Regions from separate parts of the Homo sapiens genome. Here regions 2 and 3 are each linked to region 1. Evidence: fine-mapped expression QTL. A gene starts in region 1. Each other region holds a variant in brackets. All regions are shown on one strand. Distances are between the middles of the regions.

Region 1 (10,659 bases):
TGATGACCTTAGTTGGTTGTGACCTCACTCTCCTTTGAGCACTTTATTTCTCCCTCTCCAGTGACCCCAGTCCCACTCTGCAGTTCTTCGTTAGCTGGGCGCATCCTAAACACACCGTGTCCCCTCAAAGCCAGCACAGGGCATGGCTTACAGGAAATGCTCAGCACATCTCTGGAAAATGGAAGCGAATACGGTGGGAAAGTGCTGCTGCACTCAAGACAGGATGAGAATAACGAGCTGAAACTACAGCGGGAGGGATTTCAGGTGGAAGCAAAACAACCTGTTGACACGAGATTTGTTCAACTCAACAGATTGCTAAGTGTCGCTGAGAAGCCTCCCACCTCCCAGGATTTTTAATCAGAATCGGCACTTTCCTCATCTGACCAAGATTCTGCAAAAGACACAGGAAGGTGGACGAGGCTTCTTAGAGCACTTCCTGCAGTGCTAGTCCACGTGAGCCACCCAAATGATGAAAACAGACACAGCTAACAGGAGGGCTCCCGCTCCTCTAAGGCTGTAACGCACATGATCTCACTCCATCCTCACAACCACCTGTAAGCAGAATCCACGCACACTCCCATGTTACAGGTGAGGAAACTGAGGCCCAGGGAATCGAGTTGTTGCCCAAGTTCCTGCCGCTGGGAGGTGTCAGAGTGCAGCTCCCTGTGACTCGAGGGCCTCAAGCTGCCTTGACACTGGCTCATGTGGAAGCAAGTCCTACCCATCCACAGGTGGCGGCACACCACGTACACACACATCATGCACAGACACATGTGCACTGAACCTCGTCTTGCCCACACACTTAGCCAAGTGGAGGCAGGCTCGGATACAGACATAAATCTCAGGCTGACACTTCATGGATCTCAGATTTGGTCATGTTCTTAGGGAAAAATCGTCAGAGAGAAATGATTGAAAATGAGCCCTCAAAATTAAAGTGGAAAGGGATCTGGCACCTTTAGTAGACCATTAAAGCCCTGCTCAGGAACAGCAAAGTCCCTGCAGAAACCCAGCCTCAGGCCAGGTGGGCTTCTGACGGGCTCTCTGCTCACATACTAATATTCAAACAAAAGTAGAAGCTATTCCCCGAGGGCCGCAGCATGGGGAATGGCATTGGGGTAGATGCTCTGGCCCTACCTGCTGGAGGCCAGAGACACACTCAACTCCCAGTGGGGCACGGGGTGGGGAGGATACGAGCACCAAGTCCAGGACCCCAGGCCAGCAAGTTGGAGGCAGCAGGAAGTACCCTGGGAGAGGCATGTGACTGGCACGTGAATGGCCCTCCAGGCCTCAGGCTCTGGGTAGCATGGACAACCCTGGGAAGAACTGGGCACCACCTCCCACAAACAGTCCCGTACCCAGCACTAAGAGCTCTCAGAGCTTAAACTCCTCTTTCAGACTGCAATTCTAAGGTTTGGGTTCTAATGCTGACATTTCGGGCCCAAAGATGGGGAGAGGGTGGTCTGTTTTAACTCACCCATTAGAGTCCTCTTTCTACCTGGATCCCAAAAAGAGAAGCCTTGGGGGAGTCTGGCTCTTGCTGGGAAAGAACTTGGGTCTTTCAGGGAGGTGTGACCCTGAGGAGCTGGCCTGTAAGTAGGCAGTGGCCGCTGGGCAGCGGCGCACAGCAGCAGGGGGAAGGGAGCCCAGCACTAACCTGCCTCGCTGCCTCGGGGAGAGGACTGGAGGGCAGTGCGCTCCCCTCGCTCAGCAGACACCCTCGGAGGCCTCACCGCTTGTCCAATGGGGACCCAGGGAGGCAAGGCCCCTGTTTCCTGGAGATCACAAACTGAGAGCGGGGACAGACACATGCAGCAGCCCAGGTAAGAGGTATAGCATGGGGCATCTTCCCCCGAGTGCAGGCCTGGCTCCACTTCTTCCTGCCGGTGACCCTGGACAAGGATTTTACCGTTTGTCCTGTCTTCCTAGCTTTTTGAGAACCACTGGCAGAGGTGGGTGTGAAAGCGATAGTAAAACATCCATAAGGGACTGAGGAGCTTACTGTGAATTGGACTTGAAAAGGAAACCTCAGAAATTATCCACACACAGGGATTTATACACAAACCTACAGGATACACACGTGCCGAGGCTTAAAGGAGGCTGTACTTTTTACACCCTCTGCAGAGTCGGACGTGACCAACCCGTCTCTTGCAGGGACCCTCCTCACACTGCCTCTCCTTCCCAAGGCCCAACTCGCTGGGCGCCCTGATCTCTCTCATATCTCCTTCTCCTTGGAAGCCTTCCCCTATTACTGCCATGTGCCGAAAAACAGACCACCCTGTCCCCATTGCTAGGCCTGAAATTCCACCACTAGAATCAGAGCCATAGAATGTCAAAGCTGGAATGGACCTTCCGGCTCTAGTCCAACCCCCACCCCACAGAGGAATCCTGTCCGCAGACACCCTGACAGATGGCTGCTGGCGTCCTTTCCTAGGCTTCTCCAGGAAGGACTCAGAGGGCAGCCCTGTGGACCAGTCCACTCCTTGAGTCTAGAAGGAATTCACCTTTCTTAGGGTCAGTCTCCTATGGAAGGCACTGGTGCCTGGGTGGGGTAACGAGGGAAGTTTGGTCGGCCTGAATCCGCAGCTGCTTATCTGGGGAGGAGCTGCACAGAGGAGGGGGACCCACCAGGGAGGCAGGCAGGTGCCAGAGCTGCTGCACAGGCCAGCCTGGTCCCTCGCCTGGAGCCAGCACATGTGCACACACAGACTCCCACCTTGACAGAGCCACCTGTCACAGCCCAAGCAGGGCCTCGGTAGAACCTGGAGGCAGAGGGGGACCATTTTGCCCCAGAAACCCAGCAGGAACTCCCTACAACCCAACTCTCCAAAGGCAGGCAGCTCAGAAAACTACCTGGAGATGGCCCCTGCTAGCCAACCAAAGAGGGTCCCCGGGATGCCTGGCCCCCCAAATCCCACAGGCCAGTCCTAACACCCAGGCAATAGCAAGGCGAATAGCTCCCCTGGCTGCAGCTGTCACATCTGCCCGCGAGGGAGGAGGCGACACTGGAGCAGCACCTGATCCCAGGATCCCTTCGTAGCCGCCCGCCCAGGAGGCGGGTTCAGCCGCTGGCAGCCTAGGGTGAAACATGAAGACTGAGCAGGCCCTCAGGGATGCTGATGGCAGTCTCTGGGCACGGCAGTGAGGGGCAAGTTGGGTCACAGGGCGGACAGCGCTTCTCCCCAAGGCTTCTGTCCCCGCTGGTTTGGAGGGGGGGTAGCTGCGCGGCCCTGGGGCTCGGCCCTGCCCACCCTCCCGCCTGCCGCAGGCCAGAGCTGCCCTGCTGGGTGCCAGACGCCATGTTGGGTCAAGGTGCAGCCGCAGGGGGCTCCCCTCAGGAGCCGGGGGAGGCAGCCCCTGGGAACCAGAGGGCACTGCTCCCCGCCCAGGGCGCCAACACCTCCTCAACTGGCCGTGCAGCGGAGAGAGGGTGCCAGGACGGAGGGGATGAGGAGAGGGGGAGAAATGGCAGAGGGGCGCTGGGGTGGGAGAGGGTGCCCCCAAGAAGGGAGGCTTCAGGAAAGCGAAAAGCAGTTTGGCAGCCCCAGGGCCGCGGGCCCCAGCGATGAGGGGCTGGGGGAGGCCAGGGGCGGGCCCTGGACCCGCGCCAGCCCGGTCCGCGCCGAAGGGGAGGGAAGGCAGGGCGGCCTGGGGGAGGGGAACTGGGGTGAGGGCGGGACACGGACAGCCGCCGCCTGCGGCTCCGAAGCTCGAGGTCTCCCGGGGTGCGGGGACGTGGGGCCGAAGACCCCGCTCCGCAGCCGCGGCGAGGCCTCGTCCTTCACTGTGCAGATGCGAAGCTTTCAAGGACACGTCTGCACCGGCCCGGCGGGGTGCGTGTGCGTGAGTGTGTCCGCGTGCGTGGGAGTGTGCGCGGGGGTGCTGGAGGGGCGACCCCGGGCGTACCCCCCCTGCGCCGCTCCCGGTCCCGGCCCCGCTACTTCCACCCCCGCGTTTTCCGGCCCCCGCGGCCCGGGCCCGGGCCCGGGATCCTCGCCCGCCCCCGCCCCGCCCCCACATTGCGGCGCCGCCACCGCGGCCGCCCGGGCACCCACGGCCCGCGGTGGGGACAGGGAGGAGCCGGGCACGACCACCCCTCTCCGTGCCGCCGGCACTCCGGGGGAAGGTGTGCCCCCAAGGCGGGCGCTCTCCCCGGCCCCGCCGCCCCTCCCGGCCCCGCCGGCGCCCCGCACCCCCAGCCACAGGTGGCCGGAGGAGGATCGCGGCGCGGCGCTCCCCGGCCCGGCCCCGCCATCACCCCTCGGCCCGCCCCCGGGGGCCTCCCGGGTCCCCCGCCCCGCGGGGCCGAGGAGGGCCGGGCGCCGGGGGGAGGGGCGGGGGGCCGGGTCGTGCCAGGCTGCCATTTTCTGCCGCCGCCGCGGAGCCTGCGCGGGGCCCGGCCCCCGCCCCCTCCCCCGCTCCCCCGGGCCGCCGCGGGGGCCGATCCTTCTGGGTCGGGGTCCGCGCCCTCCGGCGCCCTGGCCGCGGGCTCCAGGCGGGGCCGCGGGGCTGGGGCAGAGCCCGGAAGGCGGGGGCGGCCCGGCCGGGGCCCCTGCGGCAGCGGCGAGCCGGGCACCGCGGCGCAGGCCGGCGGTGGAGGGGCCCCCCGCGGCATTGTATAGACTTGAACTTGAGCCCGGAGCCGGGCGGGGGCGGGGAGGGGGGTCCGCGCCGGGAGCGGGCGGGACGGGAGGGGGCGCCTGCCGAGCCCGCGGGGACATAAACAAACCCTCAAATCCCCCGCGCCGCCCCGGCCAGCCCGGCCCGCCGTCCCCGCCTGCAGTCCCGGCCCCACGGGCGCCCGGCGCCGAGTTGCAGGGGTCCGGGAGCGTGCCCCGAGCCGGGCACTGCCAGCCGCGGCGCCCCCCGCCCGGCTCCCCGGCTCCCCGCCGCCTCCGGGCCGGCCTTCCGGGCCGCCAGCAGCGGCGCTCATTACCGTATGGCCGGTGGGGTCGGGCCGGCCCGGCTGCGCGCCCTGGTGCCGCGGCGCCGCGTCCCGGCTCGTCCTCTGCTCTCGCCGCCGCCGCCGCCCGCGCGCCCTCCCTCCCTCCCGGCCCGCCTGCCTGCCTCGCTCGCTCGCTCCCTCCCTCCGCTCGCTGTCGCGCTCCCTCTCTCCGCCTCCTCCGCCGGGTCCCCCCCTCCCACCCCTTCTCTCCGCCTTCCTCCTTCCCTCCCTCCGGCCGCCCGCGGGCCCAGGCCTCCGCCCGCCGCTCGCCCCCCGCGGCCGCGCTGGCCCCGGCCCCGGCGCTGCGGAGCCGGCCCGGGAGGCAGCGCCGACTGGGGGGCCCCGGGGCGCCGCGGCGGGAGCGGCCTGGGCGCGCGGCCGGTCCTAGCGCCCTCGGCGCGACTTCCCGGCCTCTGCGGCCCCGCCGGGGTCCCCGCACGCCGCTTGGCGGAGGTCTGGACCCCGCACCGCCCAGACCGGGGGCCGGGCCCCGGGCGCCCCGCCTCGGCCGCGCTCCCGGCCACTCAGAGCCCCTCGAGTCGTAGCCGAGCTCCGGGCCTCGCCGCAGCCCTCCCCACGCTGGGCGCCCCGCTACCTGGCGCTGCTTCTGCGCTGGGTCCCCGCATCCAGCACTGGCCGCAGGGACAGCGGCCCCTCCTCTCCCCGGGCCGGTGTCAAGTGCCTCCCCCCGCAGCCCGCGGAGCCCCCGGCGGCCTTCGCCCTGCAGTTCTCCCGACCTCCGCCAGAGCCCACTGCGCTCTGCCTGCCTCAGCACTGGGGCTGGGGACAGCAGCGCTGGCCCAACCGCGCCGCAACCCCCAGCCAGGTGCCGCCGCGGAGTAGAGGCCACTCTGCTCTACAGGGCCAAGGTCGGAGCGCCAGGCTCCTCCTGGCCGTCCCGCAGGCTCCAAAGCCTCTCTGAGATGAGCTGCCTTGAAGGGAGTGAGTTCCCCGTACCTTGAGGTGTCCAAGTAGAGTTGGGTGTCCTCAGTTGGGCACTGGAAGACTGAAAGATTTCATGAGGTGGGAGGTTGAATGAAATGACATTGAAGGTCTCTTCCAGCTGGAAGATTCTGTGTGTGCCTACACACCGCCCTCACCCCTTCACCGTGGGGGCTGTTCTCCTTCCCCATGGAGCGCTCAGGGCTCTAGGTTCCTGACTTGGGGCACCTCTGTCTAATTCCACCAGCACAGCCACTCACTATGTGCTCATCTCACTCCTCCAGCAGCCGCTGTAGGACTTGGGGCTGGGCACCCCCCCACCCCCGCCTCCAGCCTCCTTGCGCGCCCCAGCACCCCACCAGCCACCCGCAGCTCTGCACCCCGAATTCTACTCAGCACTTCAGCTATATCACAGTGCCCTGAGCTCCCTGACTGGCACAGGACATGGCGTGCTCCCTTCCCAGGGACCCGCCATCCTACTTGTGGGCAGGGATTGCTGGAGTTGGTGGTGGGACTCACTTCACAGTGAAGCGGATCCTACTTTTCCCTTCTCCCCATGCAGCCCAGCACCCGCCCCCCCAACGCCACCCTTTTAGCGTCACAGAACCGAGTTGCCAAGTTCTCTGGGACCGGGAGCTGACCTTTCATACAGACGGGAAGGTTTTCCTTCGGGAGGTTCTCCAATGCTTCCAGGTCCCTCCGTCTCCCCAACCCCCACCCTGAGCCTCGATATCTGAGACCAGCTTCTAGGCCATAGTTCTGGCCGTTTTCAGTGTCACCCTCACTCAAGTGGCCACCCCGCCCTACTGATGATAGGCCCTGCTGTCCATGGTCCCCACCGGCCCAGAGACTCCCAGTGCTCTGTGAGGACAGGGGCCGCGTCTGTCATCCCTGTAGCCCAGCACTTGGTGCTAGGAGATTCTCAGTAAACCTTGGTGGAATTAACATGTGACCCTCCTGGGCTGTTCGCTTTCTACATCAGGAGGGGCATCCGTGAACACTCTAAATGGCGCACCCAGCTTGGCAAAGGAGAAGACCGTTTATAGAAGGATGACTGAGATACCTCTGCCTTCATCAAGGGCTTACATATAACACGGCCCCAAACAGCAGCGACTGTTTACTGAGTGTCTACTATGTGCCAGGCACCAGACATGGTATTTTCTCTAGTCTTCACTAGCCCTGTGATATGGCTTGTACTCTCCTCACGCTACAGATGAAGAAACTGAGGCTCAGTCTTAGTCAAAGCCATACAGTTGGGAAGTGGCAGAGTCAGGATTCAAAGCCAGGTTCATCCGGCTCTGAAATCACCCCACATCACATCTTTTTTTTTTTTCTTTTATTGAGACACAGTCTCGCTCTGTTGCCCAGACTGGAGTGCAGTGGAGTGATCATGGCTCACTGTAGCCTCGACATTCTGGGCTCAACCAATCCTCCTGCCTCAGCCTTCTGAGTATCTGGGACTATAGATGCACACCACCATGCCTGGCTAATTTATTATTATTATTTGTAGAGATAGGGGCCTCTCTATGTTGATCAGGCTGGTCTTGAACTCCTGGGCTCAGGTGATGCTCCTATCTCAGGCTCCCAAGGTGTTGGGATGACAGGCATGAGCCATCGTGCCCAGCCCACACCACACTTTTGAAACATAGTTGCTCTTAAGAAGCTGAAATTCAGTGGGTGCAGTGGCTCACGCCTGTAACCCCAGCACTTTGGGAGGCCGAGGCGGGAGGATCACTTGAGGTCAGGAGTTCAAGACCAGCCTGGCTAACATGGTGAAACCCCGTCTCTACTTAAAATACAAAATTAGCTGGGTGTCATGGCGCATGCTTGTAAACCCAGTTACTCGGGAGGCTGAGGCAGGAGAATCGCTTGAACCTGGGTGGCGGAAGTTGCAGTGAGCTGATATCGTGCTACTGCACTCCAGCCTGGGTAACACAGCAAGACTTTGTCTCAAAAAAAAAAAAAAAAAAAAAAAGCTGAAATTCTCAGGGCCATGATGAGCAAATGTAAATTTCTATTCAATAGGGCTATTTATGATGACATTATTAGGAGCCACCAAAGTCACTTAGTATGGTAAAGTATGTAACCTTGGATGTATGGGTTGCTGGGGTCAAGAGGTCCAAGGTGACTGTGTTAGGGGGTTTATGTCTGTTAAGAAACAACCGTTTGGCTACAGGGTTGGTTCCAGACCCTGACCTTAATGTCTTTGGTCCCAAGAGGAGGCATATCTGTGCTAGCTAACCCTCATCACTGCACCTCATACTGGGTTAACTCAGGTTGGTTTAGCCTCTCGGCTTCTACACCCCTCACTTGTGTCTGCCGCACTGTGGCCTCATCAGAATCCTGGCTGATCCTAGATTATCTAGGGTATGTGGCAGTATCAGGACAGGCTAGGTTGTCCTGCAGTAACAAACAACTCCAAATCTCAGTGACTCAAAACCACAAAGTTTCTATGGAAAACAGTATGGTAGTACCTCAAAAAAAATTAAACATAGAATTACCATATAACCCAGCAGTTCCACTTCCGGTGTACAGTCAAAATAATTGAAAGCAGAAATTTTTTTGTTTGTTTTTTGTTGTGTTGTTTTCTTTTGTTTTGCTTTTGAGATGGAGTTTCCCTCTTATTGTCCAGGCTAGAGTGCAGTGGCGTGATCTCGGCTCACTGCAACCTGTGCCTCCTGGGTTCAAGTGATTCTCCTGTGTCAGCCTCCCAAATAGCTGGGATTACAGGTGCCCACCACCATGCCTGGCTAATTTTTTAATTTTTAGTAGAGACGGGGTTTCACCATGGTGGCCAGGCTGGTCTTGAACTCCTGACCTCAGGTGATCCACCTGCCTCAGCCTCCCAAAGTGCTGGGATTACAGGCGTGAGCCACCATGCCCGGCCAAAAGCAGAGATTGGAGTAGATATCTGTACACCAATGTTTATAGCAGCATTATTCACAATAGCCAAAAGTGGAGGCAACCTGATGTTATCAGCTGATGAATGAATAAGCAAAATGCAGTCTATCCACACAATAGAAGATGATCCAGCCTTAAAAAGGAGGGAGTCCTGACACCTGTTAACAACATGCATGAACCTTGAGGATACTATGCTAAATGAAATGAGGCAGACACAAATGCATAAATACTGTAGGATTCCACTCATATGAGGGTCCTGGAGTAGTCAGACTCATAGAGACAGAAGTGGAATGGTGGGTGCCAGGGGCTGCGGGGAGGGGGAATGGGGACTTGGTATTTAACGGGGATAGAGTTTCAGTTTGGGAAGATGAAAAAGTTCTGGAGATGGATGGCGGTGGTGGTTGTACTTATGACACTGAACTATACACTTAAAAATGATTAGGCCGGGCGCAGTGGCTCACTCCTGTAATCCTAACACTTTGGGAGGCCAAGGCAGATGGATCACGAGGTCAGGAGATCGAGACCATCCTGGCTAACACGGTGAAACCCCGTCTCTACTAAAAATACAAAAAAAAAGCCGGGCGTGGTGGCGGGCGCCTGTAGTCCCAGCTACTTGGGAGGCTGAGGCAGGAGAATCGCCTGAACCTGGGAGGCAGAGGTTGCAGTGAGCCGAGATCATGCCACTGCACTCCAGCCTGGGCGACAGAGCGAGACTCTGTCTCAAAAAAAAAGATTAAAAGGTCCGGGTGTGATGGCTCACACCTTTAATTCCAGCACTTTGGGAGGCTGAGTCAGGTGGATCACCTGAGGTCAGGAGTTCAAGACCAGCCTGGCCAACCTGGTGAAACCCCGTCTCTACTAAAAATACAAAAATTAGCCAGGTGTGGTGGAAGGCCCCTGTAATCCTAGCTACTCAGGAGGCTGAGGCAGGAAAATCGCTTGAACCCAGGAGGCGAACATTTTAGTGAGCCGAGATCATGCCACTGCACGGCAGCCTGGGCAACAAGAGTGAAACTCCATTTCAAAAAAAAAAAAAAAAGGCCGGGCGCGGTGGCTCACACCTGTAATCCCAGCACTTTGGGAGGCCAAGGCAGGTGGATCACAAGGTCAAGAGATGGAGACCATCCTGGCCAACATGGTGAAACCCCATCTCTACTAAAAATACAAAAATTAGCTGGGCATGGAGGCAGGCGCCTGTAGTCCCAGCTACTGGGGAGGCTGAAGCAGGAGAATCACTTGAACCCAGGAGGTGGAGCTTGCAGTGAGCCGAGATTGCACCACTGCACTCCAGCCTGGGCAACAGAGTGAGACTCCGTCTCAAAAAAAAAAAGGTTAAAATGATAAATTTCATGTTATGTCTATTTTACCACAATAAAAAAAATAGAGCATAGTCCAACTGTACATTACATTTCTTCAGTAGATTACCAACGAACCGCGAAAGTTCCTTCTCTTGCCCGTGTCACATGTCTATCGCAGGTTTGCAGAGGGGTAGAGGTAGGGGGCTCTGCTCATTGAATACTCAGGGACCCTGGTCGACAGAAAAGCCACTATCTCAAGGAGAGTACCAGAGGGTGTCCCATTGACAAAAGGCACTTGTCACTATAGGCAGTCACACAGCTCCATTCACTTACAAGGACCAGGAAGTAAATGCTACCATGGGCCTCAAAGTGGGGAGAACTAGATAGAGTTAGCACCAGTGACTACCACAGGGGCCCTCCCAGCCCCCTCACAGGTCACATGCTCCTCTAACATCCTCTACCCAGGGTCTCCAGCGGAAGGCTTAGCTCCTACACTCCTGACTCAAAAGAGAAAAGTGGCAGTAGGTCTACCCTTGCCCCCAACATCCTGACAGAGACGTGTCTTCTCCATCCATG
Region 2 (8,000 bases), 62 kb before region 1:
GAAGGGGACTAAAAATACCCCCATTCTGCTGCTCCCAGTCAAGAGACCTCCTTCCCCAAAGGAGGAGCAGGAAGGCAGAGGGGGTGCGGAAGGAGGAGGGGGTGCAGGAAGGCCTGGGCCAGAGGGCCAGCCTGAGCGGCCTCCCTGGCCCTGCAAGGGAGTGTTTGCAGAGGCCTTCTGGGCATAAGGGCATGTACTGGGGGGCGGTGGGTACCGGGCCAACTGGAACAAGACCCCGGTGAAGCAACTTCCTCTCTACGAGACTCAGTTTCCTCATCTGGAAAATAAGGATGCTGGATGCGATTTCCAAGGTCCGCCTGCAGGTCCAAATATTATGATTCTATTACTAATCTCATTCTCCGTCCCTCCACTCCCTGCCCCATGCTCAGGCCCCTGAGCTCAGCCTTTAATCTAGAAGACTTGAGTTTGGATTCCAGTGTGACCTCTGTAACCTCTCCTGGCCTGTTTTCCCACTGAATCAAGGTAGATAAATGTTCTAAAATCATTAGGTTATGGTGAGCATTAAGTGCCTACTGTGGGGCCTGGCATACTGTAGGTGCTCAATACATGTTAGTGTGGTTCTCCTTCCCTAAGGATTCATTTCCTCTACTGGGCCCTGATTCCAGGTCCTGGCAGGGAAGTCTCAATTTCCCTATTGAGACCTTGCCCTCTCCCTGTGCTTCTCCAAGCCCCCAGCATGAGGGGAGCTGCGCTCCTCCCAGGCATCCCCCTGCACTCCCCACCAGGTCCTCACCACCCTTTCCAGGCACCCCTTCCAGGCCCAGCGCCCCGGAGGCTGCGGGGCTGGCTGATTCTGCCTCCCATAGCTTCTTGCTGGAGGTGGGGAAGTGAGCCCTCCTTCCACCTGGGCCCCTGAGCTTCTTTGTCGGGAACCGACAGCGTATCGGGCCTGGGCCCACTGCAGGAAGGTCACTAAGGCTGGCTCATGGTAGCTTGGGGTGGGGGGAGACAAAGAGCCTGAAACGGAAAAAACAGCCCCGACTTCATCTCCTGGCTGTGAAGCGGAAGCCAGCCACAGTGTTCACGCCGCGGGTCCTCAGCCCGGGAGGCCACTCCCTTCCCTCGTGACAGGGGGGTCCTGGACTGGTTTTGGGCTGACCCCGGGCGCCCAGGACAGCGCTGTCCTCCGTGGTTCTGTCCCTGGTGACAGCGACTCCCGCTAGCTAGGCCCGGGAGCACCAGGGGGAGGGAGGCAGGAGGGCCACCGTGGGTGCGGGCCTGGCGCCGGGCTCAGCCCGCGGGGGCCGCGTGGGCGGGGACGGGGCGTCTTGTCGCGGGCACCTGTGCGCGTGGGCGGGCGCGCACTCGCCAGCGCTTTGTTCGTGACCGGCCTTTTAAGGGCTGTCTCACCCATCTTGTCTGGCTCTGCCTCCCTGTTTCCTTTCCGTCCTCTCTCCCACCACAGCCAGCTCCCCACTTTTTTCGCGGGGGCCCCCTCCAGCCTGTCCGGGGCCTCCCCGTTCCCAGGCCAGGGCTTCCCCCTCCTCCCAGACCTCGTTGCTCTGCCCGGTGAGGCCCCGGGCTCCCAGCAGGGGGCGCCTGCTCGCGATCAGGTGGCGGCCTGGGGGCGGCCTGGCGGTCCCGGCGGACCCTGACGCGGCGGGGCTCCGGGGCTCGCGGTGGCGCTGGGAACCACTGTGTCAGCCCTGCGGCTAGGGCGGGGAGTGGAGGACCCCCGGGCTGGCTCTCGGACCTGGACTTGGGGCTTCCGACTGCATTTTCTCCCCAGCCCGCTTTAGAACCTCAAACGTTTCCTACTTGGGACCCTCCATGGCATTTAATTACTTTTACGGATAATTATTTATTCATTAGAATATTAGAAAATCAGGGTTGAAAGGCTTTGCAGAGATCATTGAGTACTTGTTCAGCACTTAAATTTTGCAGAAAGCTGAGACCTGGGGGGTGGAGTGACTTAAGGCCGGAGCTGAGATGAGCTTTTCAGGGGTCCTGATGCCCCGGCAAGCTCCCTCTCCGCTGCACCACTACTGTTATTTCTCAATGTGACCCCCTTCCTAATTTCCCAGCCCCCCAAGCTCCCCAAAACAGAACGATTTTTCCCTATGCAGTTTCCAACTGGCTTCTTTCTGGAATTTTCTCCCTGACAGACTCTGCGCATGCCCACTTGAGTGATCACACACACACACACACACACACACACACACACACACAGACACACACGCTTTCCAGCCTGGCCGGGCCGCCTCGGAATGCGGCACTTGTCGTGAGTCAGGGAGGGTCAGCTGCTCTCTCAGTACGGCCTATGCAGCCCAACTGCTCCTGGCCCAGGCCCAGGGTCACCGCCAGGGCCAGGTGGTTGTGACCTTCCAGTGTGGCCCTGACAGGCCCGAACATGACCCTAGTGCATCTCAGGACTTGGGGGCAGGGGAGGCCAGGGTGCTTCTAACACTCGCCTTCGAGTCTGAGCTATACTCAGCCAGAGGCCACCCAAGTTCTCTTTAAAATGAACTCAAATCTCCATGACCAGGCTGTAGCCAGGTTTACCTCAGAGGGCAGTCACTGGCCTGAAAAGGGGCCCTATGCTCAGAGTAGAGAGGGGTTTTGTGCTGACCCTAATCCGGTCTCTCACCAGTTGCATAATCTTGGGTAAGTAATTTAACCTTTCTGAAGCTTCAGTCTCCCCATCTGAAAAATGAGGATAATAAGAGTCTTCCAGGCTGAGTGCAGTGGCTCATGCCTGTAATCTCAGCACTTTGGAAGGCCAAGGTGGGCAGATCACTTGAGATCAGGAGTCCACGACCAGCCTGGCCAACATGGCGAAACCCTGTCTCTACTAAAATTACAAAAATTAACCAGGTATGGTGGCTGGCGCCTGTAATCCCAGCTACTCCGGAGGCTGAGGCAGGAGAATCGCTTCAACCTGGGAGGTGGAGGTTGCAGTAAGCCAAGATTGTGCCACTGCACTCCAGCCTGAGCGACAGAGTGAATGAGACGCTGTCTCAAAAAAAAAAAAAAATCTTCCTCCCGTGATCACACATGGGGCATAATACACAGCAGAGCTTCTGAAACTTTCATATACATGGGAAGCATGAGGCCCTCTTTAAAATGCAGATTCTGATCCAGCAGGTCTTCAGTGGAGCCTGGAATTCTGCATTTCTAAATTCCTGGGTGCTGCCAACACTGCTGGTCTATGGACCACTGTGAGTAGCGAGGAGAGAGAATGCCCAATACAGTCAATACTCAATAAGGGAAAGCCACATCGCCACTGCCACCTGAATCATCATCATTATGGCATTAATGCTGGCGGGGGCAGGAACAGACCCAAGACAAGCACAGGCCTGTCGGGTGTTGGCTCCTGTCCCTATCACTCATCTCATCATCTCCCGTCTTCCTGATTCTTTCTCCTGGCTGTACTTTCAGCACATGCTCAGGCTACAAGAAACGCTGCCTTAAAAAGTCTGTTTTTGCTGTACAGGAGCTAATGAAAGGGGTTCCAGGAGAGCATCCCCTGAAAAGAGACCTGGAATAAGGGGAACTGAAAGGAGACCACGGCCGAGCCACATCCTCTCCGGGGCCTTAGTCTCCTTCCTCATCTGAATCAACCAGCTGAGCATGTGTTCTATGTCAGCTGACTGCTGGAACCGTGACCGAGCCTCCACACCCTGATTAAGCCACTGTCCGTTGCATATTGGCAGAGCCTAGGCCACTGCCCACCCCGCGAGGTAACATCTCACCAATTTCAGCTTCCAGGCAGTGCAGTGGCCTTCAGGGATCCTACCAGCTCTGATCCCTGCCAGAATCTATACTTCCTGGATAGCTGGGACCACACAGGAGTGTACCAAGGCCAAAGTTTGTTTTTTTTTTTTGTATTTTTTTGAGATGGAGTCTCACTCTATTGCCCAGGCTGGAGTGCAGTGGCACAATCTTGGCTTACTGCAACCTCCACCTCCCGGGTTTAAGTGATTCTCCTGTCTCAGACTCCGGAGTAGCTGCGACTACAGGCATGCACCACCAAGCTCGACTAATTTTTTTTTGTATTTTTAGTAGAGACAAGGTTTCACTGTGTTGGCC[C/T]GGCTGGTCTCGAACTCCTGACCTCAAGTCATCTGCCCGCCTGGGCCTCCCAAAGTGCTAGGATTACCAGCATGAGCCACTGTGCCCAGCCTCAAGGCCAAATTTTGGAGGTCAAGGAGACTTAAAGAGTTTTTGCCCACCACACTCAGCACTAAGATTCTAAGGAAGATCCACCTGTCTGAAAGTCCCAGACCCAGGAATCATCCTTGACAGCATCTCTCCCTCACCTCTCATGTTCCTGGCATTTGTCCCCTCCCTTCATCTCTGCTGCCATCCTGCTCATCAGCCCCTCCGATGTCATCCTGCTTCCCAGCTCCTCCATTCCATCCCAGGATCCAGATGACATGAGCTTTTCAAATTGCAAAGCTGATTACATCACACACACTGCCCACTCCCCGCCTCCCCACCCCCCGCCTCCCCGCCCCCCCACCCCCCACCCCGGCAGCCACCTTTGAAGGCCTGGCCTGTCTGCCCCAGCACTTTCCACACCCTTCTCCTTTGCTCTCTGCACTCTAGCCTTGTGACATCTATCAGTTCCCTGGGTGCCCTGCTCCCTCCCACCTGGGAGCCTTCTTCCCTGTTCTCACTCTCTCCCTCTACCCCTCACCCAGTGGACTCCCTTCGCCCTTCAGCTCGCGCTGGACAGCCCAGGCCAACTCAGGTTCTTCGTTGCAGTTCCCCTGGACATGTTTCACTTCCCTTAGAGCGCTTATCTCCATGTGTAATCTCATCTTTTTAAGGGTGGATTTCTCATTAATGTCTGTCTCTCCAGCTGACTGTGAGGTCCTTGAGGGCAAGAAGCAGGTTTTTGTTCATAATAGTTTCCCCAGTCCCTGGTATGGATCCTAGCACACCCTGAATGGGTGTTTTAAGAAACACCTGTTGACTGATCGATGCAGGAGCCCTTGAGAACAGCTAGAAATGGAAGTAGGGAAATCCCAAAGTGAAAACAAACCCTCAAGGCCAGAGAACAGCTTTGGGGCTATGGCTCCATGCTTCAGGGCAGGAAGGAATGCCGTGACCCTGGGTAGCAGCTCGGCAGGAGTCATGGTGGGGTCCTGGGAAGCGAAGTCAACTGCAGTCAGCCCATGGGAAGCACCACATTTGGAAGGGCAGGGCTGATGGGTTCTCTCACACACCTGGCATTGTTAATGGGAAGGATGGTGTCTTCTCCCTTTCCTCATCTGTTTCACTCCCCTCAGGCCCTTCCCACTCTCGGGAAGTATCAGAATATGTGCAAGAGGCCTAGACAATTCAGGACCCGTCTCCGCACCAAGTCCCATTCCAGGACAGCGGAAAATAGTAGAAAGGCACAAGACCAGGACTGAATGAGCCCTGGATCTGCCACTTAAGGTTGGGGCTCCATGAGCAAGTCACATCATTGTTTTAAGCCTCAATATTTTTCTCCTGAAATGAGGATAATCATATCTCTTGAATAAGATTGTTAGAGGAGTAAATAAAACAACTAATACAGATTCCCTCTGTAGTGTTCTGCACATAGTGGGAGCATCATACATATTTGTCGAATAATAAATGAATAAAAGCTTCTTAATAAGTTTGGAAATTTGTATTCTGGAAATGTTCTCTATCCTGCATGAACATTAGGTTGGATCCATGCAAAATAAGTTACGCCAATTAATCAATTTACTCATTTCATCATACACGCTTGGAAGGAAGACTTTTTGAAATTAAAATGCACATATGCAAAACAACCTGGCAGGGCCCTGGGAGGATCAAATGTGATAATGTATGAGAAAGCGCTTTGTAAACTGTGAAGCCCTGTACAAATGCTAGTTGTCCTCATTACTAACATGTTTACAGCTCGGTTGGCCCTGAAATTGCTGGCTTAACCTGAAAGAGAAAAGTGGGCAACTTTCCAGGCTTCCAGGGTTAGGCCAAAAAGTCCCCAGATGAAGAGGCCTGGGCTGGGCAGTACACAGAATACAATCACCCAGCCCTCTCCCCACGCCACTGTCACAACCAAATTTCCAGTTGAGTCAGCCCAACTAGGGTGGGCTCAGGACCTCTGCACTCAGGGAGGCAAACAGGGTATCTGCTGCCCTTGAGTGCCCAGGCCAGGGGCTACAAATACAGCAACCCCCAGGAACTGCATGGCACGTGGGAGAGTAAGCAGGCCAGGTAGAGCTGCAGAAAACTAAGGCCCACAACCAGCCACAGAAGGCGATGGAGGGACCGCCATTATCCCAGTCTAGCAATCGTTGGCGTTATGAAAGCCCGCTGTTGCCAGATCTAGCTTTTTTTTTTTTCATGAGAAGCCAAAACTCCAGATTTTTATGTGAAATTTTTTGATTTTTAAATACTGGCAACTAATTTTTTAAATGTTTAAAACACTCTATGGGCCAAATAAAACATATGCGCAGGCTGCATCCAGCCAGTAGCCTCCAGGCCATAGCCTTGGCAAGCAGACCTTTAGCCACGACCCAGACCATCCTTCCTGGGACCTGCTGGAGAGCCAAGTCCCTGACTCTCAGGGTATGCTGGTGGGCCCAGAAGAGGCTGCCCCTGGTGCTGAGGACTCACCCGCTTCTGCAGGGGCTCCTCGGCCCTCCTTGGGGGTGCAGCAGCCATTTTCCACTGCTCTTGAGGCTTCAGGCAGGGTCTCAGCTGCACCCTCTCCCTCTGCTGGGGCCCCGCCCTTCTGCCCCCCAGCAGGGCTCCCCTCCTCTGGCTGGGGCTCACTCCGCTTCTCCAAGTCCCCATTGGGTAATAGCTCTGAGGCGCCTGAGTCCTGGGCCATGGATGGGGACTTGGAGATCACCGCAGGGTCCTTTGGCGTGTCACCGCTTTCCACCTGCAAATGTAAGAAAGATACACAAGAGGAGGGTTAGATCAGTGGGCTTAGCCTGTTTTGGATCATTGACCGCTCTGAAATTCTAGAGAATGTTATGCACTTTCTGTCCAGAAACTGTGTTCATATAAACCTTCATGCAAACAGATACATTCACAATTTTGCTTTCAACATCAAAGGATTCCTGGGCTTGACCCCTTGAAATCACGAGTCTGTGGACTCCAGCTTCAGAAACAGGAAAAGAATCCAAGCAGGTTTGCCAGCCTGGTTGCACTTCTCAAGGGATCGGCTCCCCCATCCCACCGCCACTCACTGAGGTTACATAGGACGTCCAAGCCTTCTCTGCAGCCCCTGTTAAAAAAGAAATGCTCCGGCCAGGCGTGGTGGCTCACACCTGTAATCCCAGCACTTTGGGAGGCTGAGGCAGGTGAATCACTTGAGGTCGGGAGTTTAAGAGCAGCCTGGCCAACATGGAGAAACCCCATCTCTACTAAAAATACAAAGTTAGTTGGGGATGGTGGTGCATGCCCGTAATCCCAGGTACTCGGGAGGCTGAGGCAGGAGAACCGCTTGAACCTGGGAGGCAGAGTTTGCGGTGAGCCGAGATCACGCCATTGCACTCCAGCCTTGCGACAGAGCAAGACTCCGCCTCAAAAAAAAAAAAAAAAAAAAAAGCTCCTTGTGCCACCCATAATCCAATAAGACCCCCCTCTCCCTTAGAAGATTCCAGTGCCACCAGATCAAGTCTGGGACTCAGGCTGGTCTGACTTCTGTGGTCAGTGCCCTCCCAGCTTTCCTCTTGGTCTCTTGAGGCATGAGAGTCGAAGGAGGACCCCCAAAAAACCATTCTGTAGGCTCATAGCCTAGCGTAGCCTTCTCCCCTGGCCTGGGCCGCCCCAGATTCTTTCAGGCACTCAGACCCAGAAGAGCCAAGGCTCTGGCAAACAGTTTTCAGGCTCTGCAACAACTCTTCCTGAGCACTGGGGTCTCTCATTCTCCCTTCAAGGGAAATCATTTCTTTATCCCCTAGAGTCTAAGAACTGAACTCGCTAAGGTTCCAGGTAATAAAAATCAAATAAAGAATAATCCTGGCTGTCTGTGTGTGTCACTGCGCAGTGGACAAAGCTCCTCACTTACTACC
Region 3 (8,000 bases), 76 kb before region 1:
TGTCCCCTGGGGTCGGGCGCAGTGGCTCACACCTGTAATCCCAGCACTTTGGGAGGCCAAGGTGGGCAGATCATGAGATCAGGAGATCAAGACCATCCTGGCCAACATGGTGAAACCCCACCCCGTCTCTACTAAAAATACAAAAATTAGCTGGGCATGGCAGCACATGCCTGTAACCCCACCTACTCGGGAGGCTGAGGCAGGAGAATCACTTGAACCAGGGAGTCAAGGGTTGCAGTGAGCTGAGATTGTGCCACTGCACTCCAGCCTGGCGAGAGAGCAAGACTCCGTCTCAAAAAAAAAAAAAAAAAAAACCTGTCCCCATTGACACCAATCTGCTGGCTTCTCAAAAGCAGCTTATCCAAACCCTAGCTCAAAAATCCACCCCCTCCTAAGAGAAAATATCTTAAAGACCTTGCGGTAGACAGAGAATTCTTAGAGATAACACACACAAACACTAACCAATAAAGGAAAAAAATGGGTAAGTTGGACTTTATTAAAAACTTCTGCTCATCAGAATACATAAGAAAATGAAAAGTTCACTGTATCATCCTGCCTCAAACCTGCTCTTCCTCCAAGATTCTCTACCTCAGATAATGAACCCTATCCCCAGCCCAGCTCCCAATACCAGACAAATTTTTCCCTCCCCTCCAACCAGGACCAGTTCTAGCAATTCCTTCAAGTTTGCCTCTCATTACCTCAACCCTCAGTCAAGGCCAAATGTAATGTTCTCCTACCTGGTCCTGCTTCTAAACTTCCTCTCTCTGGGGAATACTTATTGTCCTGCCAGGTTATCTTCCTAAACTATGTGTCCAATTCTCTTCCACCCCTGCTCTCCACTGGACAACGAAGCCTAAATTTCTCACTATGGCAGGAAGACCACTGAGGATGTGACCATCTTGCTTTCTAGTTCTGTCTCTTCTTGCCCATCCTCCCTAACCCCTGCACCCTAGTTACCAGATCTCTTACTACTCCCTAAACAACCCAGAAGTCATGCCTCCTTCTCTTTGCCCTCAGTAGTTCCTTTTCCTGAAATGCCTTCCTCCTCTTTAACACTTTTTTATTTGTTTGTTTATAATTTATTGAGATAGTATCTCACTCTGTCACCCAGGCTGGAGTCCAGTGGCATGATCATGGCTCACTGCAGCCTCGACCTCAGCCTCCTGAGTAGCTGGGACCATTGGTGCACAACACCATGCCCAGCTAATTAAATATTTTTTTTGTAGAGAGTGGGTCTGGCCATGTTGCCCAGGCTGCTCTTGAACTCCTGGGCTCAAGCAATCCTCCCACTTTGGTCTCCCAAAGTGCTGGGATTACACTGCACCCAGCCTCTTTTGCACTTACTGAAATTCTCAAAGGATGCCTGCCTCCTCCAGGAAGCTTTCCTGGAGTCCTCCAGAAGCTGCTCTCATGCTCCTTTATGCTTCATGTTGGGCTCTTTACACAGGAGCACAGAGCAAGCCCCACGCTCTGACTGCCACTGAGGCTTGTTGGAAACATTCCTGCCTCCTCCACTTGACAATGTGTGCCTCTGGGACAGGGACTATATCCAATTGGTCTCCCCCTACCCCGCCACTAGCATAGTATCATGTTTATTTACCAAGTACTGAATTACTAAGCAATCAGTAGTAAGTACTGAGGTCCATTAACTCCTTTAACGAGTGTACTGGCCTCTTAATAAAGCGGCAGAGGGCTCTGGCAGACCACCCCATATGTGAACATCCCACGGCCTCCCTGACAAGCAGTCTGGTTTTTAAAGCAGAGAGAACATTGGCTATTATATTTTCTGCTTTGTCAGCCCCATAGACAGTGCTATGGGAAAAACTTTGAGGCACTCTAGACTCCAAACTCCTAGAGGATTTCTTTGACCACCTCCCTTAGGACCCCACTCCATGCCCTTCCCCCACTGTCCCTGCCAAGCAGTCCTGTTCAGGTCAATGGCGGTACACTGCCTCTCCCTAGGCACCGCCTTCCCTGAGGCCCTTAGGCAGGGCTAGGGAGTTGCTTGCACAGTCCTTCCCTTAGTATTTCTAAAACAACCCTGCCCTGGCTACAGCACAATTCATTCATTTACCTACCAACCTCTCACAGGGGAGGGTAGAATTCTGACTTGCCTTTAAATTTGCTTCCTTAGTGTCTAGAAAATGTTGGAACATAGTAGACACCCAGACACACAAGGTGGTATCTTAAAGACTGAGCACACAGTATCTGCTCAGTAAAGGCTGGACAACCCTTTGGTTTTTTTTTTTTTTTTTTTTTTTTTGAGACAAGGTCTCGCTCTGTCGCCCAGGCTGGAGTGCAGTGGCGCAATCTTGACTCACTGCAACCTCCACCACCCTGGCTCAAACGATTCTTGTGCCTCAGCCTTCCAAGTAGCTGGGATTACAGGCATGTGCCACCACGCCCAGCTAATTTTTGTATTTTCAGTAGAGACGGCGTTTCACCATGTTAGCCAGACTGGTCTCGAATTCCTGGCCTCAAGAGATCCACCCGCCTTGGCCTCCCACAGTGTTGGGATTACAGGCGTGAGCCACTGTGCTGGGCCAAAGGTTTTTTTTTTAAAAAGAGTTTTTTGTTTTGTTTTTTTTTGTGAGACAGAGTCTGGCTCTGTCGCCCAGGCTGGAGTGCAGTGGTGCGATCTCGGCTCACTGCAAGCTCCGCCTCCCGGGTTCACGCCATTCTCCTGCCTCAGCCTCCCGAGTAGCTGGGAGGTGCCTGCCACCACGCCCGGCTAATTTTTTGTATTTTTAGTAGAGAGGGGGTTTCACCATGTTAGCCAGGATGGTCTCGATCTGCTGACCTCATGATACGCCTGCCTTCGCCTCCCAAAGTGCTGGGATTACAGGCGTGAGCCACCACCCCCGGCCAAAAAGAGTTTTTATAAGGATGCTTCACGTATGTGCCTTTAGAAGAGACGTATATGCGAGGTCTGAGAATTCACTCAAATATTTAATTTAGAATTTATGTACAAGGTAATCTAGGTAATAAAGAGAGTGCAGATCATGATTCCAGTCTCACCCCCCAACCTGCCGTGATGGAATTTTAGAATCTCTGGGGTCATCTCATCTATTTCTGTCGCATTATAAACCAGGAAACTAAAATGCCGAAAGCAGAAAGACCTCCTCACATCCATAGCTAAGGAGGGGCAGAAGCTGAGACGAGAAACCAGGCCTCCCAAATCTCATTCCAACATTTTCTTAATCCAGTTTCACAACATCATCCACATGGTCATGAAAAAACAGCAATTCAAGGGCAAGGGTTCAGGACCACATGAGTAGAGCAGGGAGGGGTGGTCGGGGAGGCTGAAAGGGACCTGAGCCTCCTGGCAAAGAGGCATGGGGAGCAGCCCCAACAACTGCAGGCCGGGGGCGGGAAGAGCATGCGGCAGGCTGGAAAGCCGGGCCAGCTCTCTCCCTCTCTTCTAAATGCATTCTTCAATTTCATGACAATTTCCAAGCCAGGAAACCAGGAAAACTGGGAGTGTAGGTTAGTCATTTGGGTACACAACAGAAGCAACACGAGATTTGGAGTCTAGTTTTGCCCATTGGGCCACTCCATCAGGATACCCATGTGGCCGCAACCTACTTACCTAGATAAATCTTAATTTTCTAATAGCAAAATACAGGTTAAAAAAATACTTCTGGCCGGGCGCGGTGGCTCATGCCTGTAATCCCAGCACTTTGGAGGCTGAGGCAGGTGGATCACCTGAGGTCAGGAGTTCAAGACCAGCCTGGCCAACATGGTGAAACCCCATCTCTCCTAAAAATACAAAAAATTAGCCGGGTGTGGTGGCAGGTGCCTGTAATCCTAGCTACTTGGGAGGCTGGGGCAGGAGAATCGCTTGAACCCAAGAGGCAGAGGTTGCAGTGAGCTGAGATCATGCCACTGCACTTCAGACTGGGTGACAGAGTAAGACTCCATCTCAAAAAAAAAAAAAAGACATTAAATGCAGATAATATGTTTTAGGATTGTGGTGAAAGCTAATGCTCCTGGCATAGTGCCTGATGTAAAGTAGGTGCTCAGTGAAGTTCAACACCCTTTCCCTGGTTCAGGCT[T/A]TGCTGTGGCCAGGAGTTGGCCCTGGGCCAGCAACTAGTCACCTACCCCACCCTGCCTCTTTTTTTCTCACCACTAAAAAGTAGGGGTTGTTCTAAGAGCTGTTCTCTCTGTGCCCCAGAAGTGAAGACTCTGGTGCGCAACCAACCCATCTACTTAAAGGACAATGGGGAGTCCCTCTGTGGCAACTTTAGTAGCCTATGGTAAAGGCCAGCCCTCGAAGTCACTACTGCTTACAGGCTGTCATGGGAGCCTCTAGAACTTGTTCAGCCTTGGGTAAAGTATACTTGCTGTGCCTACTCCAAACATCATCATCTCCTTCAAGGGTGATGTTATTTTTGAGGCCACGCTGCAAAAGGTCAGGTAGGGCAAATAAGTGAGGAATGTCTTCCAGTCCAAATGCTCTAAAACTGCTTCCCATACAGTTGGCTAATAATTTGTTTTGAGCCTTTACTGGTCTACTTTGCACTTCCATTTCTCCTGAACTAGACTAAAGCCCAGGAGATCACACCTTATTATCTCCTCCTTCCCATAGCCCCTAGCACAAGGCCCCTTTACTTAGTAGGTGCTGAGTGACTGCTTATTAAATGGAATATGACACAGCATGGGGGACCTTCTGGACATTCATGGCCTGCTCTCCTCAGGGCAGACAGGAAGCACAGTCTGTTGAGACTGCAGGGTTGTAAAGTCAGAGGAGGCAACATTTGCTAAGCTCATAGAAGCAGCAGCACAAATGGCCAATAAACATAGGAAAAGATGTTCAACCTTATTATCTGGGAAATGCCAATTAAAAGCATAACAAGATACTATTTTCCCACCCATTTGACTAGCAAAATATTGATGTTGGCAAAGGTCTTCTCATACCCTGTTCACAGAAGCATAAATTGGAGTGCCCTTTTTAGAGGGCAGTTTGGCAGATGTCATAAAATGTAAAATGCACATTCCCTTCAGCTAGGCCTTTTTCTTTCTAGGTATCTGTCTTAGAGAAACAGATGCACAAAGAGGTATGACTAAGGATGTTCACCGCTGCAATGCTAAACAGTAAAATATCATAAACAACATAAATGGCCACCAATAACAGAATGGCTAAATAAAACCATGGGAATCCACATGGTGGAATATAATAGTAATTACGTGGCTAGATTGCACAGACTTATTGGAAGTCAAAAACCAAGCTGTAAAATGAAACTACAGTGTGGTTCCATTTGTGTAAAAAGAACAGGAAAAAAAGAACCCCTGAAGCAAAATTATATATTTACACGCATACACACGGATAGGAAAAAATCATGACGTTACACCAAACTGATAGCATCAAGTATTTCTGGTGAAGGAATTAAATTTTCAGGCCAGGTGTGGTGGCTCATGCCTGTAATCCCAGTACTTTGGGAGGTGGAGGCAAAAGGACTGCTTGAGCCCAGGAGTTCAAAGCCAGCCTGGTCAACATAAGGAGACCCCCATCTCTACAAAAAATTTAAAAATTAGCCAAGTGTGGTGGCACATGCCTGTGGTCCCAGCTACTCAGGAGGCTTAGGTGGGAGGATCACCTGAGCCAAGAAGTTGAGGCTGCAGTGAGCCATGATCATGCCATTGTACTCCAGCCTGGCCAATGGAGCAGGACCCTGTCTCAAAATAAAATTTTGGGGTGGCAAGTTTGGGCGGACTTTTTCACAAGAATGTATTTGTGTAATACTTATGTAATTTAAAATACTTTCTAAAAAATTATAAAGTTCCTATTATATGCTAGCTCTGTGCTAGGAGCTTTAAATGTTGTGTGTTGTCCACACAACTCTGAGATAAGAATTGTTCATTCATTCAGCACACTTTCACCCTGCACCTCCCACATGCCAGCCCTGGGGGCAGGGGGTGCCCAGAATGCCTGTATTGAACGAGCTTAAATGCAGAAATGGGTAGAGGCAGAAAACAAGCTGGCGAGTGCTGCTGTCATGGAGATGCAGAGTACAGCCAAGTCCATCCACAGAGGAGGAACCTCAGCTGGGGTACAGGGTAAGTGATGCCTAAGGTCCCACACCCAGTAAGTGGGACCTTTCTTAAGGCAGTATTTGAACTTGCCTCCAAAGGTCGCAGTAAACAGCAGCCAACCCTTAAGGTCCATGAAGGCTCTGCTATCTGCTGGGCAGCCCTGGGCGGAGGGAGTGGGTTGTATCTCAGTGTGGCGAGGGAAGGGAGGAGAGACTATGATGTTCCAGTCACAGATGTTTCATTATCACTATTCAATATTATTAAGCATCTAATAAGTATAAGGATGCATGAGTCAAGGGTCCCTACCTTCAGGTCGGAAGCAGGAAAGAGACCAGATCCTAGAACAATAGGACATGGTACCCGCTGCCTAGACGGAATTTAGAATCCGGCTGGGGTGAAGAGATTAATGAGCGAGTCATGCCATCAATGTGCTGTAACTGAGTCCTAAAACCACCAGCCGCGACACAAACTGGAGTGAGTGGCTTCCCAGGCGAGATGACCGCCCAGCTACTGACCCTGGGTCTCTGTGCTCATCTGCCTTGCAGAGCTACAGGGAGGGCTAATGAAGCGAGAGGCCCTTCCTAACCCTCAAGCCCTCCATCAGAGTGCATTTTGCTCTGAGAATTAGAAGGAAGAGGAGCTAAGGGAGTGCCTTCCTTTGGGAGGAGGAACTGCCCTACCCTGCCCTCCCCACAGCCCTGGCCAGCTCTGCCAGGCCAAGGAAGGTTCTCCTCAGCTCAGAAGCCTGGTGAGAATGGCAGGAATACAGGATGGAGGAGACTCTGGCCCCCCTTTACCCATGGAGGCTGTCCATACCAGTCCCCATGCCATCCTCCAGGTACACCTGTCAGCACCCCTGGAAAAACCACCTCGAAATCAAGTGTGTGGGCCCTTGTCATGGTGGAAATCTAAGATCTCATGTTCCCAGAGAAGTGGTCCCACATTCACCTACCTCCCAACTGCTTAGCCAGCCAGCAGGTATTCACTGGGCCTGTTCTCCCTGCCCATTGCATTAGGCCAGACAGAGGAAGATGTGATCAACACATAAGAAACAGTGAAAAATACCCTGATGAAATATGATTGAGTGCTAAGTAATATTAACCGTAAGGACAGTCTGAGTGCAGTGGCTCATGCCTGTAATTCCAGTACTTTGGGAGGCCAAAGCAGGCGGATCACTTGGGGTCAGGAGTTCGAGACCAGCCAGGTCAACATAGCAAAACCCCATCTCTACTTAAAATATAAAAATTAGCTGGGTGTGGTGGTGCGTGCCTGTAATTCCAGCTACTGGGAAGGCTGAGGCGAGGCACGAGAATCACTTGAACCTGGGAGGTGGAGGTTGCAGTGAGCCAAGAGACTGCACCACTGCACCCCAGCCTGGGAGACAGAGTGAAACTGTCTCAGACAAACAAACAAACCCCAGTGAGGGTTACAGGGATTCAGGGAAGGGAAGAGGTCATTGTGGACTGGAGAAATCTTGGAAACCTTCCTGGAGGAGGCAGCAGCTCTTGGCCTCAACCCTGAAGAATGGACTGGGGAAATCACAGCAGGAACGATGACAGGAAGGAAGGAAGGAGCATGGCAATGTCCCTTCCTAGGGGACACCCTTCTATTAGAGGACTGTAGTGAAAGTGGGGTGGGCTGATTGTGGAGGTCGAAGGGTTGAAGACTTGAGAAATAGCCAGAGGGTATCTGACATGATGGGGGAGACAATGGGGAGCCATTGGAGGTTCTATGGCAGGGTGTGATCATGATTAAAACAGAGCTTAGTCCTTACAGGACTAGTAAGCAGGTGAAGGAACAGCAACAGGAGATGGAACAGACAGAAGACAACAACTTCCTTCCCAGCTCCAGCAGGAATTCTCACTTCAGCCTCAGGGACTGCAGAAATGTCTCATTTTCCCCGTTCACTTATTTTCCATTTCTTTCATTTTGTGACATTCTGAGTCGTCTTAAATCTTGGGGGAGGG

Evidence for each region.
Region 2: its variant is fine-mapped to the expression of DNMT3A in whole blood (TOPMed, PIP above 0.99).
Region 3: its variant is fine-mapped to the expression of DNMT3A in whole blood (INTERVAL, PIP 0.97).

The regions. Positions count from the first base shown.
Region 1 is chr2:25,336,893-25,347,551 of GRCh38, forward strand. It overlaps DNMT3A (DNA methyltransferase 3 alpha), which reads right to left and starts at 5,033. Exons shown (of 23, transcript NM_022552.5): 1 at 4,934-5,033. RefSeq lists silencers at 3,756-3,875, 4,156-4,395, 4,496-4,665, 4,956-5,165, 5,226-5,705 and 2 more and an enhancer at 5,826-5,945.
Region 2 is chr2:25,275,850-25,283,849 of GRCh38, forward strand. It overlaps DNMT3A (DNA methyltransferase 3 alpha), which reads right to left. Exons shown (of 23, transcript NM_022552.5): 4 at 6,592-6,862. Among named protein-coding and RNA genes, the nearest start is that of MIR1301, 49 kb to the right of the region's middle. RefSeq lists enhancers at 433-1,024, 1,615-2,204, 2,205-2,794 and a silencer at 1,083-1,712. The variant C/T (reference allele first, on the strand shown) is at 4,051.
Region 3 is chr2:25,261,895-25,269,894 of GRCh38, forward strand. All of the region lies in intron 6 of DNMT3A (DNA methyltransferase 3 alpha), which reads right to left. Among named protein-coding and RNA genes, the nearest start is that of LINC01381, 62 kb to the left of the region's middle. RefSeq lists enhancers at 2,106-2,689, 2,690-3,274. The variant T/A (reference allele first, on the strand shown) is at 4,056.